3 separate regions of the Homo sapiens genome follow, and all the other regions are linked to region 2. Evidence: fine-mapped expression QTL. A gene starts in region 2. Each other region holds a variant in brackets. All regions are shown on one strand. Distances are between the middles of the regions.

Region 1 (5,231 bases), 32 kb after region 2:
TGTTCTTTTTATACTATAGAATAATATTTTGTTCTCTAGTATATCAAAATACCAAAATATTATCTCATATTTTCTCCCTCTTTCTCTTACTCTTTACCAAGTTTTCCTGGTGGCTTGGCTTCCCTGACTAAAGAATTAAGTCTCATTTTTACTTTCCATTTCTATTTTCTTACCACTTGGTTGGCTCCCTTTGTCTCTGTACCTTTACCAACATTAGGATCTCACCTCTTTCTTCCTCCCTTAATTCATAAGCACCACTCCTATCAAAGTCCCATCTCTTAACCCTGGGTATCAAACAAACTGTGAGTTTTCCAGAATCTGTTTCCCAGTTTTCCCCTCAGCTTTCCTGGTCTCCCATCCGAACTGCTTCTTTGTGCACCTCTTGTTCTTTCTCTTGGCTCCCAGTCTTGATTCCTGTGATCACTCTTGCATCACTAATTGCACAAGTGATTTCAGGTGCAATTCTGATTAGCCTGCGTCCACACAGTGATCGATGATCCTATGTGCCTAGAAAGGACACTGTGTGCTGCTCATGACCTGCAACAGGAAAAAAGCCATTTCTTGTTAGCAGTGTAAGAACCTTAGAGCAAAGGAGTTGACCTTCTGATTGAATATAAGCACAACCATATTAAATGAATCAATACAAGAAAATTATTTCTGATACTATGTATGTACATATTTCTTCTCTAAAATGTATCATTCTTTTCTAATGTATATGATCTAACAAAAATGAAACATGAAATGCAGTAGCAACCACTAAAAAAAAAAATTCAAGGACATCTAACTTTTTCTCTCACTTTTGCCCTTTGTTTATCCTTCCCTGTGATTAGATAAACAAAATAAAAAACAAAATGCTGTATTTCTCTTCTTACGCCAGTCAGAACCAATCCGAAAAGAATGTGTGTTGACTCAGGTTTGGAGTTATTTCAGGAAGACAGATATTGACCTTTTAATTGATAAATATTCTTATTATCCTGGAATGCCAGAAAAGAACTATGTCCTGCTTGTCTAGTTTGTATTCGCTGACTTTCTATGTGATATAGATGCATTTGTAATACTCTTTTTCAAGTGCTAAAGGATTTCTAAAATTTCAAACTGATTAATATGTTTCTGCTGTTCTGGATTTTGATGACATTTACAATAAAACAACCTACATTTGACTTTGGTTTAAAAAGAACCTCTTCTTAAGTGTATGGCTTACATTTTGTCAACACGGTATTAATGTGCTTTATATTTACAGTTTTCTCAGCTCTAAATTAATATATCCAGCTTTTGGTTTTCTCCATAGGCACTTTAACCTCAGTGTTTCCGAAACTCCATTCGTCATCCTCCCTAACTTCTCCCACCACCCCCAACAAAAATTTCCTTTACCTCTAAGAGCCTCTATTTTGGTTAACAGAATCAACATTATGGAATCACCCAATCAATAAAATTAAGACAAATCCTAAACATTTAAGCAGGTCATCTGCACCTTGGTAACCCATCAATGAATTACCTACCTCCTGTGGCTACTGTCATTTCTTAGTTGCATGTTCTTTAGTGTCATTTATCTCCATTATTCAGTAGCCTACTCATTATTCTCTATGTCCCTTAGTCCAGACCCAAAGTCTGGTGATTCAGATTGATGTTCTTATAGTCCATCTACTGTATTTCCCCTGCATTTACATTTCTCAAAGACGTTATCAGTTTCTCTGTTCACAACCGTTCAAGGGCTCCCAATGCCTTATGATACCATGTGAGCTCTTTTAAGTGAGTTTTCACGAAGAAGCCCCTCTCTACCTTTTCAACCGTGATTGCTGCTGTGCTGCATAGTTTGATCACTCTTATGCTGTGATCCAGCCATAACAAACTACTTGAAGTCAAAGCAACAAAATCCTCACCTAATAATTAGAAGTCATAATGAAAGTCATCAACGTGTTTCTGGATGTGGTTTCACAAAGATCTCAAAGTGAATACTAAATTAGCCCACCTTACAGTGATTTTCTAGCCCATTTAAAAGTTATAAAGTGGGTCATCAGCACTAGAAGCAAGTGTGACTGGGGAGGGTGGGGACTTGCAGTCTAAATTATTTTGATATTTACATGAAGAATGACTGATATATCCTTTGATAAAACTCTTGCAACTTCTAGCTTAGTCACACCAAGAAATATAGGTGTAAAGAACTAAATATAACCATATAGTCTATGATATGGTTTAGCTATGATATGGTTTAGCTGTCTCTTAACCCAAATCTCACCTTGAATTGTAATAATCCCCACATGTCAAGGGCAGGGCCAGGTGGAGATAATTGAATCATGAGGGTGGTTTCTCCCATACTGTTCTCATGGTAGTGAATAAGTCTCACAAGATCTGATGGTTTTATAAATGGGAGTTCCCCTGCACAAGCACTCTTGCCTGCCACCATGTAAGACATGACTTTGCTTCTCCTTTGCTTTCCACCATGATTGTGAAGCCTCCACAACCATGTGGAACTGTGAGTCCATTAAACCTCTTTCCTTTATGACTTACCCAGTCTCAGGTATGTCTTTATTAGCAGCATAACAGCAGACTAATGCAACAGGCTAAGAAGGGAGTTACAGTATTGGCCAGGGTGATTGACCTGGACTATGAAGACGAAATCAGTCTACTACTCCACAATGGAGGTAAGGAAGAGTAGGCATGGAACACAGGAGAACCCTTAGGGTGTCTCTTAGTATTGCCATGCCCTGTGATTAATGTCAATGGGAAACTACAA[C/T]GGCACAATCCTGGCAGGACTACAAATGGCCCAGATACTTCAGGAATGAAGGTTTGGGTCACTCCAGCAGGTACAAAGCCACAACCTGCTGAGGTGCTTGCTGAAGGCAAAGAGAATAAGGAATGGGGGTAGTGGAATAAGGTAGTCATCAATAGCAGCTTCAGCCATGTGACCAGTTGCAGAAATGAGGACTGTAATTGTCATGAGTATTTCCTCTTTATTTTGTTGAGAACATGTTTGCACATATATATACTTGTACTAAGAAAATATATTCATTTTATTTCCTTTATTTTTCCTTTATCATGTGATGTAAGATTTGTTGACTTCATATCAGCATTTAAGTGTTGTTAACTTTAGGTAATAGCATTTGGATTGGGGATTGGTGCACTTCCAGTTGTACAAAGGATAGCTGTATTGTGTTAGATGTAATTATGACCTTATTATTGGCTTCAGTTGAAGATTATGTGTGATTTCAGGAGATGTGGATGGGTTCAAGTTGACAAAGTTGTGATGGTTAATATTGAGTGCCAACTTGATTGGATTGAAGGATGCAAAGTATTGTTCCTGGATGTGTTTGTGAGGGTGTTTCCAAAGGAGATTAACATTTGAGTCAGTGGACTGGGAGAGGCAGACCCACCCTCAGCCTGGGTGGGCCCTGTCTAATCAGCTGCCAGTGTGAAAGGAGGCATGGAGAGAACAGACCTGCTGAGTCTTCTGGCCTCCATCTTTCTCCCATGCTGGAGGCTTCCTGCCCTGGAATAACAGACTCCAAGTTCTTCAACTTTTGGACTCTTGGACTTATATCAGTGATTTGCCATGGGCTCTGGGGCCTTCGGCCACAGACTGAAGGCTACAATATTGGCTTCCCTCCTTTTGAGGTGTTGGGACTTGGACTGGCTTCCTGGCTTGCAGACCTATTGTGGGACTTCACCTTGTAATTTTGTAAGTCAATACTCTTTAATAAACTCCCCTTCATATATACATCGATCCTGTTAGTTTTGTCCCTTTGGAGAATCCTGACTAATACAGTCTATTAAAATAATGATAAACGTTGACAAATAACATTTACACCAATATTCTAAGGCACTTTGGTGACAGAATATCTATTAACACATGTTTCTCCTGGGAAATAGCAAAGCTTATAAAATAAGTACTTTTATCCCCAGATGGATAGGAAACTAGGCTTCAACTGGTGATAGTACCAGATAGTTAATAAATGGCAGAGCCAGAATTTGCCCTCGAGCTTGTTGATTTCAAAGCTAGTGCCTTTTAGCCACCATGCCATTTGCCTCTGTATTATATCAGCCTAGCCACCATCAGATACTGTGTATACACACATACATGAGCACACAACAGTCATGGAGACAAAAACAATTATATGTAATTCTGAGACAAACTAGATGATATAATCCTTATAAGACCTTATAAGAAAAAACTTGCAAATGAAACCAAAGAATAGTTCAATTCCATCAAGAACTTACTGCTTGCTAGTGATAATCACTCTAGGTCAAGGTTGACATACATTTTAGATTTCTTAAATAATATTATGTACTTCCTCCCATAACAAAAATTTAAGTTTTCCCAATAACCTGGCCAAGCTAGAAAAAGAAGACTAAAACTCATGTCTGATCTAAACTCTTAGCTTAGTTAATGTCTTATTAGAAATGAACTGGGTCACTGTCCAGTCTGTGTACTTTCTTCTGGAAAGCACATCTTCTTTGAGGGGACTGTTCCTTGCTTTTACCTCAGTTCTGCATGCATTAGAGTTCACTCCACCTCCCAGACCACAGGCATGGGAGCTGGGGGAAAGAGAAGCTTTGCCCTGTGTGAGTCTGATGGTGCTGGAAACTGGGACCCAGCCTGAGACAGAAGCTGTTCTACTGCAGGAAAGAATAAAGCCAACACCTACAGAGAAGAGATGAGACAAAAAAGATCTCAGAAGAGTGTTCCAGGAATATAGCACTCCAGGAACTGGACCCAGTCCTTGTGGCATCAGAGTTTTCAGGCTCCTCTTTCAAGGCTTTTTGGACAGTGTTCATTTGAATTCTGCAAGCTAGTAATTCTTCAGTATATCCCCTCTAGACAAACTTCAGATAGATTTCTGTCTTTGGTCATTAAGATTCCTAACAAATACAATCAATATTTCAAAAACAATACAGGGAGAAAGATTAATACTTTATTATTTTAAAAATTTTGTTTGAAAGCCTTTGTACAGAATAATATAATGTACTGCATAAAATATTTGAAATAGATGAAGTTTACAAGTTTATAAAGATGAAACAATGAGATAGTGATTACATTAAGTGGTTACATTAAGTCTCAGGGGAAACTGAATTTTTAATAGGAAAACACCCTATGTACAATGTTACTATTTAAATGTATTCTTTCTCATCTTAATGCTTAGTCTTGTCACAAACAAGAGGTAATCAAATTGTTTCTAGAATTAAATCAGAGCATCGTGGTGCTGAACAATATATGCATACATATATTCAAACTG
Region 2 (5,231 bases):
CACTGCTGCTCCCACCTCAGTCATTCCCTGGTCCACTGTCTCAATTTCTCTATTCACTCATTCTGCAGGAACAAAGAGCTGGCAGGAAAAGCCCAGCCTTCTGATAAGGTTCTGAGGATTTTGTCCAAAGGCCTAAGAGGAGCTGAGGACTCTTGCTAACAGCCACATGAGCTTGAAATTGAATCCTTTAAACTTGGGAAACCTTCAGAAGATTGCAGCCATATGCAACAGCTTGTCTGCGTCCTCATGAGACACTCTGAGCTGGAACCACCCAGATAAGCTGCTCCCTCCTGGTCCACAGAAACTGTTTAAGATAAGAAAAATTCGTATTTTTAAGATGCTAAGTTTGAGGGTTATATTTTACATGGCAATAGATATCTAATACAGAGTTGAGGGAAGTTCCATGTGCTATTTTGCAAATTTGATGAAAAAAACACATCTCTACATATACATGTAATTTGTAGTGTTTATTCTAAGAATTAGCAGATACTTGCCACCTTCACTTTTCAAGCCACTTTTCAAAAACTTTGTTTTACTACTTAATAGATGATTCTGATCTCCCTTTTAACTGACCCAAAATTCTTCACAATCTGTGCGCTTCTTACTTATCTCATATTCTACTCTCCCCCATCCTTTTTTTTTTCCTTTACTCCATCCATGCTGACGTCTTTTATGTTTCTGGAACGTGCCAAGCAAACTTCCATCTCAAGGCCTTTGTGTTGACAGTTCTTTCTGTCTTAGCTTCTCTTTCCCTGGATATCTGAATATCCATGTGGCTCACTTTCTTCTCCTTCAAATCTTTGCTCAAAACTCTCCTCATCAGTGAGGACAGTATTGAACAGCTTATTTAAAATAGCAGTACCACCCCTCACACTGATGATGCTCCTTATCTGGATTTATTGTCCTTTAACACATGTACAAGTTGAGCATCTCTAATCCAAACACCCAAAATACTCCAAAATCTAAAACTTATTGAGTACTGACATCATGCCACACCTAGAAAATTTCACACCTGACTTCATGTGGTGGGTCATAGTCAAAATGCATTCAAAGCCTTGTTTTATGCATAAAATTACCTAAAATAGTCAGTAAGATTACCTTCAGTCAGTAGCATAAGTGAAACACAAATGAATTTTGTGTTTAGACTTGGGTCTCATCCCCAAGAGATCTCATTATGTATATGCAAATATTCCAAAATCTGGGGGGAAAAAATCTGAAATCTGAAACACTTCCAGACCCAGGCATTGTGGATAAGGGATCCTCAACCTGTAGTAATTTTATTGCGTCTCTCCCCCTCACTGAAATACCAGCTTCAACAGGGTGGGGCTTTTCATCTCTTCAGTCACTTATGCACTTCCATCCATGATGTGTCCTGATGACCTAGAACAATGCCTGACACTTAGGAAGTACTCAATAAAATATTTGTTGATGTAAATCAATTGAAATATCAGTCCCATAGGGATGGGGATTTTCATCCCTTTAGTCACTTATCCACTTACTTGATATATCCTCATTACCTAGAAGAATGCCTGACACTTAGCAGGTACTCAATAAATACTTGATGTGAGCTCCTGAAATGAGTTTAGTTCAAGGGGCTTTTTTACAATACCAATTATCCTAAAGTAAAGATGACTGCCTATATTTAAATTTCCTGACTCCGTAGGTTGTCAATAAACAGGGACTATGATCTGAAAGCAAAGTTCAGTTTAAAAAGAAAAGTATGTGCTTGTATGAGTCACAAAAAAGGGCTAAGTACAAAAGAACTGCTGAGGTAAACATGAACATCGTTCTGTGAACTTATGATTTAAATAAAATCTTTATCACCACACTTGCCAAGAGCAATATATCTTATCATGAACGTACATAAAAAACTCTTGTGTCTTTCCTCTTAATACTCGGAACATTATTTTTATTTTTATTACGAAGTTTGCATTGGAGAATATTGTAACTCACTGCACCTAGGTAAAAACTAAAGACATAAATCTGATGTTAGTTCTAAAAATCTACAAGGGTAATGATATGAATTTCACAGACATGGAAGCCTTGTTCAGAATAGATGATAATAGAAAGGCTCGGTAGAGCCAGGTTCATGAGTGTGTGACCTGTGCAGAAGTGGGTGCTTAGAAGGCCCATGGCTTGGGTTAATGCTCTGCTGTTGCCGTCTTGAAATTCTTCACAATTTATGAACAAGGGAACTTCATTTTCAGTTTACACGGAACCCTGCAAATTATGTACTTGGCTCTATCTTCCTTTGCAAACGGAGAAACAGGCTTCAAGAGTTTTGAAACTGCCATAATAGATCCAAAAACTGTGTATGCTTTTCACATCTGTACAATTTTGTTACGTATTTATAAACATCTGCTGAATGGATGACTCTATGTATTGGCCCACATCACTTCAGAACTAGGTCTTGAACTTAGGGATTGTGGCAAGAAGGAAAAAGGCAGCTTCCGGTGGCTCACAGGGCAGGCCAGGTGGCTCACACCTGTGAGCATTTTGGGAGGCCAAGGCGGGTGGATCACTAGAGTCCAGGAGTTCGAGACCGGCCTGGGCAATATGGCAAGATCCTATCTCTACTAAAAATACAAAAATAGCCTGGGGTGGTGGCACGCGCCTGTAGTCCCAGGTACTCCGGAGGCTGAGGCAGGAGGCACTTGAACCTGAAGGTCGAGGCTGCAGTGAGACCTGATCTCAACACACACAAAAGAATGACTCTCAGGCTTCTTTTTTTCTAATGGATGGAAGTGAAACCTCGAAAGCACATGGTCAAGTGCCTGACTCTTCCAAAACAAAAACAAAAACAAAAAAACTAGCCTCAGCAAGGAGGTCCGTAGCCTCCAGCTGACCGGATTTTCAGTCACAGAACACCGGGGACCTAAAAAAGGGTCAATCTCAGCATCGTGCACTCAACCCAGCTCCTTCCGCCCCTCGAGCCCAGGCTGGGAGGAGCCGAGGAACCGAAAGAGAAAACAGGCCGCGCGGGCGGCAGAGGAGCCGGGCGCCGCAATGGACGTGCGGGCGCTGCCGTGGCTGCCGTGGCTGCTGTGGCTGCTGTGCCGGGGCGGCGGCGATGCGGACTCCCGCGCCCCCTTCACCCCGACCTGGCCGCGGAGCCGCGAGCGTGAAGCCGCCGCCTTCCGGGTACCGAGCGCGCGCCTCCCCGGGATCTGTCCCTGCTCCCTCACTTCCTGTCCCGGGTCTGGGCTGCGGAAGAGGGCCCCCGAGAGCTGACCCTGCTCGTGGGCACCCGTGGCTCTGCGATGCGTCTGGGGCCCTGAGCTGCGGGTGCAAAAGCCAGCTTCTCTCTCCCCTCTCCTTGTGCCATGGTGTCACTCCCCCATGCCTTTGCTAACCAAAAGACTTGATTTTCCAGAAGAGATTTGTCGCTATGGATTTTTGGGACGCACCCAAATAAATCCATAGATACGTCCAAAGTGTCCTTGGTGGGAAGAAGCACCCCCTTTTAGCAATCCCCTCTATCGTTGCCACTGGCTTCCAAAGCTCTTCTATTTCTCTTTTATGAGAACCAGAAACAGGGAGCAGCCTGTTGGTGGAAGAAACCTGTCGTGTTTTTTTTTCCCGAGGAGGGCGCTAGTGATCAGAAGTTAGAAACAAAGAGCCTGTCTTTAGCCAGATTAAAGAATCCTGATGGTTTATGATTCTCCTTAAACTAACGCACCACTTTAAAAGTTCTTCCTGCCTTGGCGGAGACTGAGTTGAAGAAAAGAGAAGCATTTAATTTCCTTTTCATATTATTATACGAAATATAATATAATTTATATTTTATAATATTTATAATAAATACTTAGATTTGAGTCTAGCATGAAAACTCTGGAAGGGACCAGTTAGCTGAGCACAAATAATGATTTTCCTGAAACCAAGGAAACTGCAAGGGATGCCGATTTAGTGTTCGCCTCACTATGTTCTAGATAGCTGATACTATTTAACACATTTTTAAATTCATGAAAGATGCCATTATCATGATTTAATTTATTGGAAAAGAAAATTCTTTCATTCTGAATCAAACATAAGTCTGAGTTGAGTAATATTGCTCAAGGAAGTGTATCTTTTTTCCTGGTGTTTGTTGGAATTTCTCACAGGATTTCATAGCTGTGCTCTTTTCCCCCGACTCTCCTGGAAAGCTCCAATGTTTAGGAAGGCCAGCCTTCCCTGATTCTGTCCACTCTTACGTTTTGTCCAAACCGAGATGTGTACTGTTATCTCCACTTTATTATTCTTGAGTTCAGTTCTAGCTTTCAAAACCAGAAGTCCTCTTACTCTTTCAAGAACAAAATTCTGGCCTGTATTCTACCCCTATCCTCAACTTACGTTCGTTTTCCTGGTAAACGAAACCCCTTAGGGGAAAAGTCAGTTTCACCTTTATTGGTAACGTATTCATTGGCTAAATAAATAAACACACTGTCAGGCTCCTAAAAATAATATTTCAGGACAAAGCTCAAAGGGCTAGACTTATAAATATATTTTTAACATTTATTTAGATTTTAGATAATTTATAAATATATATGTGTATAATTTATGTAGTGACTCATACTGGTCCTGTAAAGAGGCCATACCCTGATGAATGTCTAGAAAATGTAACTTTTCTCAGGAGAAATACAAAGAAACAGGTTGAAAGATGGAAAGTTGGAAGTGGAGGAGGATCGAATTATGAAGACTCTTAGTACATTTTAAAAACCTCGGGTTAAGAAATACTGAAAAAATTTTCAAAGCAATTGCTGCCTGTAAGAATTTGCTTCATGAGATGGATACCCAAAAAAGAGAACATTGAGGCTTCAACGCACAGTTGCTGGAAACTGAACACCTCTCGGTGCTTAGTTGGACTTTATCCAAGAATGCTTTAAAACCGATTTTCTACCTTAGTGGTCCCCAATCTTTTGGCACTAGGGACCGGATTCATGGAAGACATTTTTTCCATGGACGGGAGGAGGGAAGTGGGGGAGATGGATGGATTTGGGATGAAAGTCTTTCATCTAAGATCATCAGGAATTAGTTAGATTAGTTAGCTGGAGATTGCTGTTCGGACTTGGGATAGAGAGCTGGACAGTGGGAAAGGTGGAAAGGGCCTTGCCTCCTTGGTAACCGTGAAACTTCTTGTTGAAATCAAGTTAATTCATTGGTGAATTGATGATTCAGGGGTTTGCAGCTGAAGATCTGGTTCAAGAAAGTCCTTGATTAATTAGTAATGTCTTTCATGGTCATGGGTTTAGAGA
Region 3 (5,231 bases), 57 kb after region 2:
GCAATTTCAGACATGAGGTTATGAAAACTATTTTTTGGCCATATTTTGGTATATAAACACGTTAACATTCATTTTTTCCTAGTTCAACATGATATATTATCATTGAAAATTTGAAAAGAAATGCTTTTCTTTATATAATTTAATAGTATTTTTAAAAGCAAGTGTTCTATTTGTAAATAAGAAGAGGTTACCAACTATTTTAATAGTATAAATTATATTAAATAAACTTTATAATACAATCATAATGTATTATATAATTTTTTAAAAGTACTAAGTAGCATATTTTATTATCAACTACATAAAAAACATTAAAATGATTTTAAAAGTTTAGGTATTATAAAAAAATTATTTAAAGTTTAGGTATTATTCTCATAATATACAGTTTGAACCATATGAAATTGATGCTTTTGTAGGTTGGAATGGTTAAATAGCAATAATTTTATAGAATTCATATTATTACTATTAAAGTAAATACTAAATACTAAAAATACTATTAAAGGTAGTTCACAAGTCAGAAAAAATTGCAAAATAGAAACATCTGTTCTTTAAAAGGGAAGGGTGTTGCGGGAAGTCAGGGAACCCAAATGGAGGGACCAGCTGGAGCTGCAGCAGAGGAACATAAATTGTGAAGATTTCATTTTAATAAGGACATTTATCAGTTCCCAAATAATACTTTTATAATTTCTTACACCTGTCTTTACTTTAATCTTTTATCCTGTTATCTTCCTAAGCTGAGGAGATACGTCACCTCAGGACCTCTGTGATAATTGTGTTAACTGTACAAATTGATTGTAAAACGTGTGTTTGAACAATATGAAATCAGTGCACCTTGAAAAACAACAGAATAACAGCAATTTTTAGGGAACAAGGGAAGACAACCATAAGGTCTGACTACCTGTGGGGTCAGGCAAAAAGAGCCACATTTTTCTTCTTGCAGAGAGCCCATAAAGGGACATGCAAGTAGGGAAGATATCACTAAATTATTTTCCTAGCAAGGAATATTAATATTAGTATTAATACCCTGGGAAAGGAATGCATTCGTGGGGGGAGATCTATAAACAGCTGTTCTGGGAATGTCTGTCTTATGTGGTTGAGATAAGGACTGAGATACACCCTGGTCTCCAGTACCCTCAGGCTTACTAGAGTGGGGAAAACTCCGCCCTGGTAAATTTGTGGTCAGACTGGTTCTGTGCTCTTGAACCCTGCTTTCTGTTGTTTAAGATGTTTATCAAGACAATATGTGCACCACTGAACATAGACTTTATCAGTAGTTCTGCTTTTTCCCTTTGCCTTGTGATCTTTGTTGGACCCTTACCAGTAGTTCTGCTTTTGCCCTTTGTCCTGTTCCCTCAGAAGCATGTGATCTTTGTTAGACCCTTAGTAGTAGTTCTGCCTTTTGCCCTTTGAAGCATGTGATCTTTGTACCTACTCCCTGTTCTTATACCCCCTCCCCATTTAAAACCTTTAATAAAAACTTGCTGGTTTTGAGCCTCAGGTGGGCATCATGGTCCTACTGATATGTGATGCCACCCCCAGCTGCCCAGTTGTAAAATTCCTCTCTTTATACTGTCTCTCTTTATTTCTCAGCTGGCCGACACTTATGGAAAATAGACAGAACCTACGTTGAAATATTGGGGGTGGGTTCCCCCGATAGAAGGGGGAAGCAGATTCTGATGCTAGCATGTTACATTGATTTCTTTAAATGATCAACAAAATCTGCATACTACCCAAACTTATTAGCAGAAAACTCAAGAGTTCACACATTTACAGCAGACTGTATAATTTTCAGATCTCATTTCCCATGACTTCCCACACAAACACCTAGTGATAAATCTAGAGCATAGGAACTAAGTCCTGAAATCTTTAAATTTTCCATGCTTACAGTGACCTCTCCACCTCTCCACCTCTTGAACTCTCACTCATTCTTTAAGAAACATTTCAGGCCGGGCGCAGTGGCTCACGCCTGTAATCCCAGCACTTTGGGAGGCCGAGGCGGGTGGATCATGAGGTCAGGAGATCGAGACCATCCTGGCTAACAAGGTGAAACCCCGTCTCTACTAAAAATACAAAAAATTAGCCGGGCGCAGTGGCGGGCGCCTGTAGTCCCAGCTACTCGGGAGGCTGAGGCAGGAGAATGGCGTGAACCTGGGAAGCGGAGCTTGCAGTGAGCCGAGATTGCGCCACTGCAGTCCGCAGTCCGGCCTGGGCGACAGAGCGAGACTCCGTCTCAAAAAAAAAAAAAAAAAAGAAACATTTCAAATAGACTTCTTCTGGGATGCTTTCCATGATATCCTCAAAAAGGAAAATTTCTTCCTCCTTGGTGGTTCAACAAGACTTTGTTCTTTTTTTTATTATTTTACTTTAAGTTCTAGGGTACATGTGCACACCATGCAGGTTTGTTACATATGTATACATGTGCCATGTTGGTGTGCTGCACCCATTAACTCGTCATTTACATTAGGTATATCTCCTAATGCTATCCCTCCCCACTCCCCCCACCCCATGACAGGCTCCTGTGTGTGATGTTCCTCTTCTTGTGTCCAAGTGGTCTCATTGTTCAATTACCACCTATGAGTGAGAACATGCAGTGTTTGGTTTTTTGTCCTTGTGATCATTTGTTGAGAATGATGGTTTCCAGCTTCATCCATGTCCCTACAAAGGACATGAACTCATCATTTTTTATGGCTGCATAGTATTCCATGGTGTATATGTGCCACATTTTCTTAATACAGTATATCATTGATGGACATTTAA[G/C]TTGGTTCCAAGTCTTTGCTATTGTGAATAGTGCTGCAATAAACATATGTGTGCATGTGTCTTTATAGTAGCATGATTTATAATCCTTTGGGTATATACCCAGTAATGGGATTGCTGGGTCAAATGGTATTTCTAGTTCTAGATCCTTGAGGAATCGCCACACCGTCTTCCACAATGGTTGAACTAGTTTGCAGTCCCACCAACAGTGTAAAAGTGTTCCTATTTCTCCACATCCTCTCCAGCACCTGTTGTTTCCTGACTTTTTAATGATCGCCATTCTAACTGGTGTGAGATGGCATCTCATTGTGATTTTGATTTGCATTTCTCTGATGGCCAGTGATGATGAGCATTTTTTCATGTGTCTGTTGGCTGTATAAATGACTTCTTTTGAGAAGTGTCTGTTCATCTACTTTGCCCACTTTTGATGGGTTTGTTTGTTTTTTTCTTATAAATTTGTTTGAGTTCTTTGTAGATTCTGGGTATTAGCCCTTTGACACATGAGTAGATTGCAAAAATTTTCTCCCATTCTGTAGGTTGTCTGTTCACTCTGATGGTAGTTTCTTTTGCTGTGCAGAAGCTCTTTAGTTTAATTAGATCCCATTTGACAATTTTGGCTTCTGTTGCCATTGCTTTTGGTGTTTTAGACATGAAGTCCTTGCCCATGCCTATGTCCTGAATGGTATTGCCTAGGTTTTCTTCTAGGGTTTTTATGGTTTTAGGTCTAACATTTAAGTCTTTGATCCATCTTGAATTAATTTTTGTATACAGTGTGAGGAAGGGATCCAGTTTCAGCTTTCTACATATGGCTAGCCAGTTTTCCCAGCACCATTTATGAAATAGGGAATAGTTTCCCCATTTCTTGTTTTTGTCAGGTTTGTCAAAGATCAGATAGTTGTAGATAAGTGGCATTATTTCTGAGGGCTCTGTTCTGTTCCATTGATCTATATCTCTGTTTTGGTACCAGTACTATGCTGTTTTGGTTACTGTAGCCTTGTAGTATAGTTTGAAGTCAGGTAGCGTGATGCCTCCAGCTTTGTTCTTTTGGCTTAGGATTGACTTGGCAATGCGGGCTCTTTTTTGGTTCCATATGAACTTTGAAGTAGTTTTTTCCAATTCTGTGAAGAAAGTCATTGGTAGCTTGATGGGGATGGCATTGAATCTATAAATTACCTTGGCCAGTATGGCCATTTTCACGATATTGAGTCTTCCTGTCCATGAGCATGGAATATTCTTCCATTTGTTTATGTCCTCTTTTATTTCACTGAGCAGTTGTTTGTAGTTCTCCTTGAAGAGGTCCTTCACATCCCTTGTAAGTTGGATTTCTAGGTATTTTATTCTGTTTGAAGCAATTGTGAATGGGAGTTCACTCAAGATTTGGCTCTCTCTTTGTCTGTTATTGGTGTAGATGAGTGCTTGTGATTTTTTGCACATTGATTTTGTATGCTGAGACTTTGCTGAAGTTGCTTATCAGCTTAAGGAGATTTTGGGCTGAGACAATGGGGTTTTCTAAATATACAATCATGTCATCTGCAAACAGGGACGATTTAACTTCCCCTTTTCCTAAGTGAATAACCTTTATTTCCTTCTCCTGCCTGATTGCCCTGGCCAGAACTTCCAACACTATGTTGAATAGGAGTGGTGAGAGAGAGCATCCCTGTCTTGTGCCAGTTTTCAAAGGGCATGCTTCCAGTTTTTGCTCATTCAGTATGACATTGGCTGTGGGTTTGTCATAGATAGCTCTTATTATTTTGAAATACGTCCCATGAATACCTAATTTATTGAAAGTTTTTAGCATGAAGGGTTGTTGAATTTTGTCAAAGGCTTTTTCTGCATCTGTTGAGATAATCATGTGGTTTTTGTCTTTGGTTCTGTTTATATGCTGGATTACATTTATTGATTTGCGTATATTGAACCAGCCTTGCATCCCAGAGATGAAGCCCACTTAATCATGGTGGATAAGCTTTTTGATGTGCTGCTGGATTCGTTTTGCCAGTATTTTATTGAGGATTTTTGCATCAATGTTCATCAAGGATATTGGTCTAAAATTCTCTTTTTTGGTTGTGTCTCTGCCCAGCTTTGGTATCAGGATGATGCTGGCCTCATAAAATGAGTTAGGGAGGATTCCCTCTTTTTGTATTGATTGGAATAGTTTCAGAAGGAATGGTACCAGCTCCTCCTTGTACCTATGGTCGAATTCGGCTGTGAATCCATCTGGTCCTGGACTTTTTTTGGTCAGTAGGCTATTAATTATTGCCTCAATTTCAGAGCATGTTATTGGTCTATTCAGGGATTCAACTTCTTCCTGGTTTAGTCTTGGGAGGGTGTATGTGTCAAGGAATTTATCCATTTCTTCTAGATTTTCTAGTTTATTTGCATAGAGGTGTTTGTAGTATTCTCTGATGGTAGTTTCTTTTTCTGTGGGATTGGTGGTGATATCCCCTTTATAATTTTTTATTGCATCTATTTGATTCTTCTCT

Evidence for each region. PIP is the estimated chance that this variant, and not a neighbour inherited with it, causes the effect.
Region 1: its variant is the best candidate, but not a certain one, in a credible set for the expression of CTSO in prefrontal cortex (CommonMind, PIP 0.67).
Region 3: its variant is the best candidate, but not a certain one, in a credible set for the expression of CTSO in whole blood (TOPMed, PIP 0.87).

What each region holds. Positions count from the first base shown.
Region 1 is chr4:155,920,064-155,925,294 of GRCh38, reverse strand. It overlaps TDO2 (tryptophan 2,3-dioxygenase), which reads right to left. Exons shown (of 12, transcript NM_005651.4): 12 at 4,889-5,231. CTSO (cathepsin O) reads left to right here. Exons shown (of 8, transcript NM_001334.3): 8 at 1-1,177. Among named protein-coding and RNA genes, the nearest start is that of TDO2, 19 kb to the right of the region's middle. The variant C/T (reference allele first, on the strand shown) is at 2,735.
Region 2 is chr4:155,951,623-155,956,853 of GRCh38, reverse strand. CTSO (cathepsin O) reads left to right here and starts at 2,988. Exons shown (of 8, transcript NM_001334.3): 1 at 2,988-3,141. The coding sequence starts at 3,007. RefSeq lists an enhancer at 1,583-1,877.
Region 3 is chr4:155,894,517-155,899,747 of GRCh38, reverse strand. No RefSeq gene overlaps it. Among named protein-coding and RNA genes, the nearest start is that of TDO2, 6.6 kb to the left of the region's middle. The variant G/C (reference allele first, on the strand shown) is at 2,755.